Linked DNA regions of Homo sapiens: regions 1 and 2 are each linked to region 3. The links come from fine-mapping of genetic effects on gene expression. A gene starts in region 3. Each other region holds a variant in brackets. All regions are shown on one strand. Distances are from middle to middle.

Evidence for each region.
Region 1: its variant is fine-mapped to the expression of C13orf42 in lung (TOPMed, PIP above 0.99). The same link has a PIP of 0.9 or more in subcutaneous fat.
Region 2: its variant is fine-mapped to the expression of C13orf42 in testis (GTEx, PIP above 0.99).

Annotation. Positions count from the first base shown.
Region 1 is chr13:51,170,890-51,173,559 of GRCh38, reverse strand. It overlaps a transcript of C13orf42 not described here. Among named protein-coding and RNA genes, the nearest start is that of FAM124A, 50 kb to the left of the region's middle. RefSeq lists an enhancer at 2,496-2,670. The variant T/G (reference allele first, on the strand shown) is at 1,269.
Region 2 is chr13:51,158,125-51,160,935 of GRCh38, reverse strand. It overlaps a transcript of C13orf42 not described here. Among named protein-coding and RNA genes, the nearest start is that of C13orf42, 48 kb to the right of the region's middle. The variant G/C (reference allele first, on the strand shown) is at 1,380.
Region 3 is chr13:51,109,530-51,112,340 of GRCh38, reverse strand. It overlaps C13orf42 (chromosome 13 open reading frame 42), which reads left to right and starts at 1,067. Exons shown (of 4, transcript NM_001351589.3): 1 at 1,067-1,545. The coding sequence starts at 1,132. RefSeq lists an enhancer at 610-1,809.

The DNA.
Region 1 (2,670 bases), 61 kb before region 3:
TTATTTTGAGGGCCTCTATAAGTATTAAAGCAGCGGCAGCCGCTGCACGCAGACATGAGGGCTAGGCTAAAACAGTAAGGTCAAGTTGTTTGGACAGAAAGGCTACAGGGTGTGGTCCTGGCTCTTGTGTAAGAATTCTGACCGCGCTAACCACGCCTAGGAAGGAAAGGAGTTGTTGTTTTATAGAAGGTGCTTGGGTTTGAGAGATCAGTCGGACGCGATTGGCAGGGAGAGCACGTGTGTTTTTATGAGAATTATGCCGAGATAGGTAACAGATGAGGAAGAAATTTGGGCTTGATTGAAGTAATGGGGGCTGTCTGAGAAGCTTTGCGGCAGTACAGCCTAGGTAATTTGCTGAGCTTGATGGGTGTCAGGGTCAGTCCAAGTGAAAGCAAAGAGAGGCTGGGATTAAGGGTGCAAAGGAATAGTAAAGAAAGCATGTTTGAGATCTAGAACAGAATAATGGGTTGTAGAGGCAGGTATTGAGGACAGGAGAGTATACGGGTTTGGCACCACGGGGTGGATAGGCAAAACAATTTGGTTGATAAGGTGCAGATCCTGAACTAACTTGTAAGGCTTGTCTGGTTTTAGGACAGGTAAAATGGGGGAATTGTAAGGAGAGTTTATAGGCTTTAAAAGGCCATGCTGTAGCAGGCGAGTGATAACAGGCTTTAATCTTTTTAAAGCGTGCTGCGGGATGGGATATTGGCGTTGAGTGGGGTAAGGGTGATTAGGTTTTAATGAGATGGTAAGGGGTGCATGATCGGTCGCCAAGGAGGGAGTAGAGGTATCTTATACTTGTGGGTTAAGGTGGGGGGATAGAAGAGGAGGACGCAAAGGAGGCTTTGAATTGGGAAGAAGGGCGGCAATGAGATATAGCTGTAGTCCAGGAATAGTCAGGGAAGCAGATAATTTAGTTAAAGTGTCTCGGCCTAATAAGGGAACTGGGCAGGTGGGGATGACTAAAAAGGAGTGCTTAAAAGAGTATTGTCTAAGTTGGCACCAGAGTTGGGGAGTTTTAAGAGGTTTGCCTGGCCGTCAATACCCACAACAGTTATGGAGGCAAGGGAAACAGGCCCTTGAAAAGAGGGTAATGTGGAGTGAGTAGCCTCCGTATTGATTAAGAAGGGGACGGGCTTACCTTCCACTGTGAGAGTTACCTGAAGCTCGGCGTCAGTGACTGTCTAGGGGGCTTCCGAGGTGATCCGGCAGTGTCAGTCTTCAGCCGCTAAGCCGAGAAGATCTGGGAAGGAGTCAGTCAGAGAGGC[T/G]TGGGCCAGAGTTCCAGGGGCTCTGGGAGTGGCTGCCAGGTGAGTTGAACAGTCCGATTTTCAGTGGGGTCCCACACAGATGGGACGCGGCTTAGGAGGAATCCCAGGCTGCGGGCATTCCTTGGCCCAGTGGCCAGATTTCTGGCACGTGTAGCAAGCTCCTGTGGGAGGAGGTTCTGGAGGAACGCCTGGCCGCTGCGGTTCAGGCGTTTGGAAGTTCTTGTGTGCTGGAGACGTGGCTGGGGTTTGTCTCACAGTGGAGGCAAGGAATTGCAACTTTTTTCTATTATGGTACACCTTGAAGGTGAGGTTAATTAAATCCTGTTGTGGGGTTTGAGGGCCAGAATTTAATTTTTGGAGTTTTATTTAATATCGGGAGCAGATTGGGTAATAAAATGTATATTGAGCATAAGACGGCCTTTTGACCTTTTAGGGTCTAGGGCTGTAAAGCGTCTCAGGGTTGCTGCCAAACAAGCCATGAACTGGGCTGGATTTTTATATTTGATGAAAAAGAGCCTAAACGCTATCTGATTTGGGGTAAAGAAAAAGGAGCATTAACCTTGACTATGCCTTTAGCTCCAGCCACCTTTTTAAGAGTAAATTGCTGGGCAGGTGGGGGAGGGCTAGTCACCGAACGAAACTGTAAGCCCGACCAGGTGTGAGGAGGGGAGGTGATAAAAAGATTATAGGGTGGAGGAGCAGAGGCTGAGGAAGAATTGGGACCTAGCTCGGCCTGGCCAGGAGCAGCCTGGGGAGGAAGGGAGAGGTCAGATGGGTCTGTAGAAAAGGAAGATTAGAAAGACTCAGCGACGCTTGGGGTTGGTACTGAGGGGACAGGCGGGAGGGAAAGAAGGAAGATTTGGGACGAGTTGCACTGGTCACAGAGACTAGGAAGGGACTGATGTGTAAAAGAATGCCTGGACGTCAGGCACCTCAGACCGTTTGCCTATTTTACGACAAGAATTATTTAGATTTTGCAGGATGGAAAAATTCAAAGTGCCATTTTCTGGCTATTTGGAACTACTGTCGAGTTTGTATTGGGGTCAAACGGCATTGCAGAAGAAAATAAGTCATTTAGGTTTTAGGTCAGGTGTGAGTTGAAGAGGTTTTAAGTTTTTGAGAACACAGGCTAAGGGAGGAGAAGGAGGAATGGAGGGTGGAAGCTTACCCATAGTGAAGGAGGCAAGCCCAGAGAAAAGAGACACGGAGAAGGGTTGGGGGGTTCTTGCCCTCCAGAAAAGCAGAGAAGGGGTTGGGGCACGGAAATAAGGGATGGGGGCACAGAGATAAGAGGTCAGGGTGCGGAAATAAGGGATTGGGGCACAGAGATAAGAGGTTGGGGTGTGGAAATAAGCAACTGGGGGCTTCTTGCCCCCTAGGAAAGCGGGACTTGCCACTAAGG
Region 2 (2,811 bases), 49 kb before region 3:
TCTTTTTCTTACTATGCTGGCAGGATCTCCAATACAATGTTGGCTAGAGGTGCTGGTCACAGGTTTCCTTGCCCTGTTTTTTATTTCAGAAAGAATACTTTCAGTGATTGCCATTAGAAATAGCATTTGCTGTAGGATTTTAATAGATAATTTAAAAAATCAGGTTAAGGAATTTCCTTTATATTTCTAGTTTGCTAAGAGTTTTTAATCATTTATAGGTATTCCCACTTATTTTATACCTGCCACTTTGAGGGATGCTCTTCTCGTACCACTGAGAAATTGTCTACTTTCTAGTGCCTTATAGTCAAATTCACAATTCCTCATTTGTTTTCAATGAGGGAGGCTTGCTTCCTGGCTCATCTTTTGTGTACCATAAAGTATGTCAATATGCAGAAGCAAATCAAATTTATTTATTTATTTATTTTTGAGACGGAGTTTTGCTCTTGTTGCCCAAGCTGGAGTGCAATGGTGCAATCACGGCTCACTGCAACCTCCGTCTCCCAGGTTCATTGACTCTCCTGCCTCAGCCTCCCGAGTAGCTGGGATTACAGGCTTGCGCCACCATGCGCAGCTAATTATTTGTATTTTTAGTAGAAATGGGGTTTCACCATGTTTGCCAAGTCTCAAACTCCTGACCTCAGGTGATCTGCCTGCCTCGGCCTCCCAAAATGCTGGGATTCCAGGCGTGAGCCACCATTCTCGTCCCACAAATCAAATTTCTAAACATTGGCATTGTGTCACCCCACACTGTGTGACCCTTAATGTCAATACTGTCTGATATGGTTTGGCTGTGTCCCCACCCAAATCTCAACTTGAATTGTATCTCACATAAGTCCCACGTGTTGTGGGAGGGACCCAGGGGGAGGTAATTGAATCATGGGAGCCAGTGTTTCCCATGCTATTCTCGAGATAGTGAGTAAGTCTCACAAGATCTGATGGGTTTATCAGGGGTTTCTGCTTTTGCTCCTTCTCTCATTCTCTCTTGCTGCTGCCACGTAAGAAGTATCTTTCACCCTCCGCCATGATTGTGAGAGTTTCCCTAGCCATGTGGAACTGTAAGTCCAATTAAACCTCTTTTTGTTCCCAGTTTCAGTATGTCTTTATCAGCAGCGTCAAAATGAACTAATACACTGTCTTACATATGAGTTGCCAGAAACGAGACACTTCATGCTGTATAAAATGCATAAAAATGCAAAATATACATTGCATATTCGGAGTCAGCTGACTTAATGGAGCTTTATGGCGAGTGAGACTCCATGTCCTTCGGATCTATTTCTCTTTTATTGTATGTGAGAATTTTACTTGCATCACCAATTTCAATAACCCTGAGATCTCAGCACAGCAGTGGAATAACAATGACAGTGGCAACAGCCCAAAGA[G/C]AGAGATTGTTTTTTGAAAGTCAACGAAAATTCAACTCTAATCTATATATTTTCTATAATCTATGTTTTCCTGAAATGGAAAAGCCTGTCTCTCCCCATGGCTGGGGGAAGCATAAAAGCTCAGTGACTCAAGGAAAGGTTTCAGACTGCTCTTGATCAGCCTCTTTATTTTCTTGTCATTCTATCCCCCACACTGTTCCCTAGTCCTCATCCTGACATCTGTTTTTTTAATCACTGTCATTGAAAACAAGTGTGGTGCTGTCTGAAATCCACAAAAAGCAACCTCCGGGGAAGAAAATATAAATCATAGGTGTGTAAATCATCAGCCCTGAGAGTTGGCATACTGTTGACTTGCCTAAGAGTCTGCATTTTCATTTAGTGGGGAAAATCAGCTTTGATGCACATGATTGGTGGGGGTGGTGGGGAACATATGAAACACAATGACTCAGAACTGGCAAAAGTCTGCGTGTGGAGAGAGGGAGATTGGTGGATTCATTCTGGCATCTAATCAGTCCCTGAGAACTGTGAGGAAATTGAAAGGGGCCAGCTTATCAGCATATTGACATGCAATGAAAGCCCCTTAAATGCTTCCCAATCCCTATGCAGAAGAAGCGGAGAAGGAAAACCACTGTCATTGGAAAAAATTATTTGGCAGAACATTCTCTTTAACGAGCAGATTCATTCATTTTCTGGGAAACATACTAGCGTTTTGCCTCTATCACACTAAAAGAACTGGCTGGTGCAATCAGTTCCACAGAACACCCATCAATTCAGTTAAACAACCAGTGGGGTGGAAAACCCCCAGAAATCAATAGTAGTTGTTTCACTGAATTGATGGGTTACTGCGAGTCGTTCAGATCCATCGGTTGACTTGTGTGTTCAGTTGCTGCCTTGTCTGTGGTGTTGCGTGGGACCTTCAGGCCAGAGACAGACCCTGCTGGAAGGCCTACAAAGTGCAAGGTGACAGACAGAGAGGTACAGGCTCCCCATGGCCAGTGGGTGTCACTTCTGCTGGGAAGATCCTTGCTGCAATGTGCAGCCATCATTGCTACTGGCAGCTCACCTCTAGTGAGGGTGATGGTGAATAGTTTTAACAAGCCACCACTGGCTGAGTGCCTTTGATGAGGGAGGTGCTTTTAAAATATTATTACTTACATTTTAACAAACCAGCAAAGTAGAAATTATCCCTCCCTGCTCTTTTCTTGCTTGAGGATTGAAGAGAAGCAGGGAGAGGCATAGCCAGGAACCTGCCTCTGTTCATTGTCAAAGCCAGAGTTCTGTTCAGGATGTCATCCACCCCTCATCCATGCATAGCATAGTGGCTGAGAACTGTAGGTTCTGGAATCTGACAAAGATGGTTCAAATCCTGGCATCTCTACTTATTGTGGGATGTTTGGCAATTTACTTAACTGGTTTCAGTTTCAATTTTCCC
Region 3 (2,811 bases):
CAGCAAAAATAAACCATGCTAATACATTCATTCAGTAATGCTTTACATACAATTTCTGGGGGCTCATACTTTCTCTTAGCTCATAGCTTAAGAAAATGCCTGACCTAGAGACTGGTGCAGGCTTGTACTCTCAGACTGTAGTCTAGGAGAGAAATAGACTGCATAGAAGAATGAACAAAATAACAATGTTTAGCATCTGCCTGAGAAAAATGCTACAGAGAACATCTCTGGAATTCTAATAGATTCCTACAGCCCTCTTGAAAAAACAGTTTATGTCTGATGTTAACTAGTCTAAGTTAAAAATGTGCTCGGGCTAAAGAAAGTGTCTGCCCCACAAATGTGGCCACCCTTCAGCTCACTGATGCTTCTGTGCAAAAAGTCGTGGTCCGGATATCTGAATCCTCCTCCTGCCTCCACAATGGGCTGCTATCCGGTAACGGCTGTGAGGTCCATTACCGCAGGGCGAGGCTCTTCCAGGACGCTCAGATGCCTGCTCAGAGCCCAGCTTATCGGGGGGATCTGCGAGCTCCTGTCAACGCCCTGGTGTGTCCACCCTGGCCCATCTCGGGGGACTAGATTTTACCCTGAGCAACACATGATTTTTGGGTAAGGGCTGTCCCTGCTAAGTAGAATTTCATTTTGGATTCAGAGAATTCAGAACCGGAGTCAGCTCAGCCCAGGTGGAAAGGTAAAAATTCACACCAAGATCAACTCAAACTGAGTGAGACCATGGCCAGCGATGGAAAGTGAAAAGGAAAGAAAATAACTGAGCAGGCAAAGCTCTGTCCCACTTTCTTCATCCAGCTGGGGCCTTCCACGGGAGAGCACTGAAGGTATTTGCACTCAATGCTTCATAAAGCCAGCCAGGGCACTCATTTTTAAGTTCACAGTGCGCCACCTTCTATCTTCGGGTTGTTTATGGCCTCTTGGTTATAGGATGTAAACATCCCCCATGGGAGATGTGCAGGTTACCCACCTGATCAAGCCGGTGCTCCCTGGGATCCTAGAGATCAGAGGCCTCCTGGAAGGCAGATGGTGCGAGGCCTGGATGTCGGCTTCTCTCCCCGCATCTAGATCAAGTGGCGGCAGCACAGGCAGCTGGAAGGTACCCACAGAAAGAAATCGAGCACTATGTTCAGAAAGATCCACTCCATCTTTAACTCCAGCCCACAGAGAAAGACGGCGGCCGAGAGCCCCTTCTACGAAGGAGCCAGCCCCGCAGTGAAGCTGATTCGAAGCAGTTCCATGTATGTGGTCGGGGACCACGGGGAGAAATTCAGCGAGTCCTTAAAGAAGTACAAAAGCACCAGTAGCATGGACACCAGCCTGTACTACCTGCGGCAGGAGGAGGACCGGGCGTGGATGTATTCGCGCACCCAGGACTGCCTGCAGTACCTGCAGGAGCTGCTGGCCTTGCGCAAAAAATATCTCAGCAGCTTCAGTGATCTGAAGCCCCACCGCACCCAGGGGATTTCCTCAACCTCCTCCAAATCCTCCAAGGGAGGGAAAAAGACTCCTGTCCGGTCTACTCCCAAAGAAATAAAGGTAAGTGCTGCTGAGCAGTACAATTTAGATGAGGGTTTTTCTGAGAGCCTTGGGCAACTGTTTGAAAGCTTCTTCCTACCTCTGCATGGCTTAATTAATCTGACACATTCTGAGCCGCGGCGCAATAGTCCTCAGATGCTTTATGCGGCCATATCCCCAGCCTGGGGAAGGGTGGCTAAGCCCATGTTTATTACTCATTTATTTATTATTAACTTTATTTTAGGTTCAGGGGTACACATGCAGGTTTGTTATATAGGTAAACTGTGTGTCACAAGGGTTTGGTGTACAGATTATTTTGTCACCCAGGTAATAAGCATAGTGCCTGATTGGTAGTTTCTTGATCCATGTTTATTTTTAATACCCAGGAAGCAAAAAGGAGCAGGTAGTGGTGTCCACAGAGCAGCTCGGTGGGGAAGACATGGGTTTTGGTGTCAGGCGGCACCATATTTGCATTGCACATCTATCAATTCCTTCCCAGTGTTATAGGTGAGATAATGCTTGCATGGCATTTGGATGACAGCAAATCATTTTTCAACAAATTGTTGGTTTTTAAAAAATTATTGTTGTCACATCTAAAAATCCTGGTGAAAAGTGAAATCATCACATGACTAGATGTTTTCAAATATTGAGGTGCTTAGCCCCACGCAAGCCAAACAACTGGAAAATTCCTCCATCTGTACCTCAGACCAGGCATGTGGTGGCTCAGGCATAGACACGGAGAGAGTCTGTGTCTCTTGGGAGATTCCCGGATGGCTTTGGGCACTGGAGGTCTCCAGACAGTCACAAGCATGAAATGAGTGAAAGAAATAATTTGCATTTATCTCTTTGTTTATGCTTATTGCAGTGTTTTGTATATACCAACTTTTCTTGAGCGTCACAATAAAGCCAGTACAGTAGGTGGGGAGGAACTCCTTCAGTATCACAGAAGGGAAAACCGAGGCTCAGTGACCCACCTCTAGGTGCTAGGTCACCTAATTTTAATTATGAGCCGGCAATTCATTCAGTTACTCTTTCCTTTATTTCCTCAGACTTGTATTTATTTAGAGACAGAGTCTCCTCTGTTGCTCAGGCTGGAGTGCAGTGGCATGATCATAGCTCACTGCAACCTCAACCTCCTGGACTCAAGTGATCCTGCCACCTCAGCTTCCCAAGTAGCTGGGACTACAGGCACCTGCCACCACACGCGGCTAATTAAAATTTTTTTTTTTTGTAGAGATGGGAGTCTTGCTTTGTTGCTCAGGCTGGTCTCAAACTCCTGACCTCAAG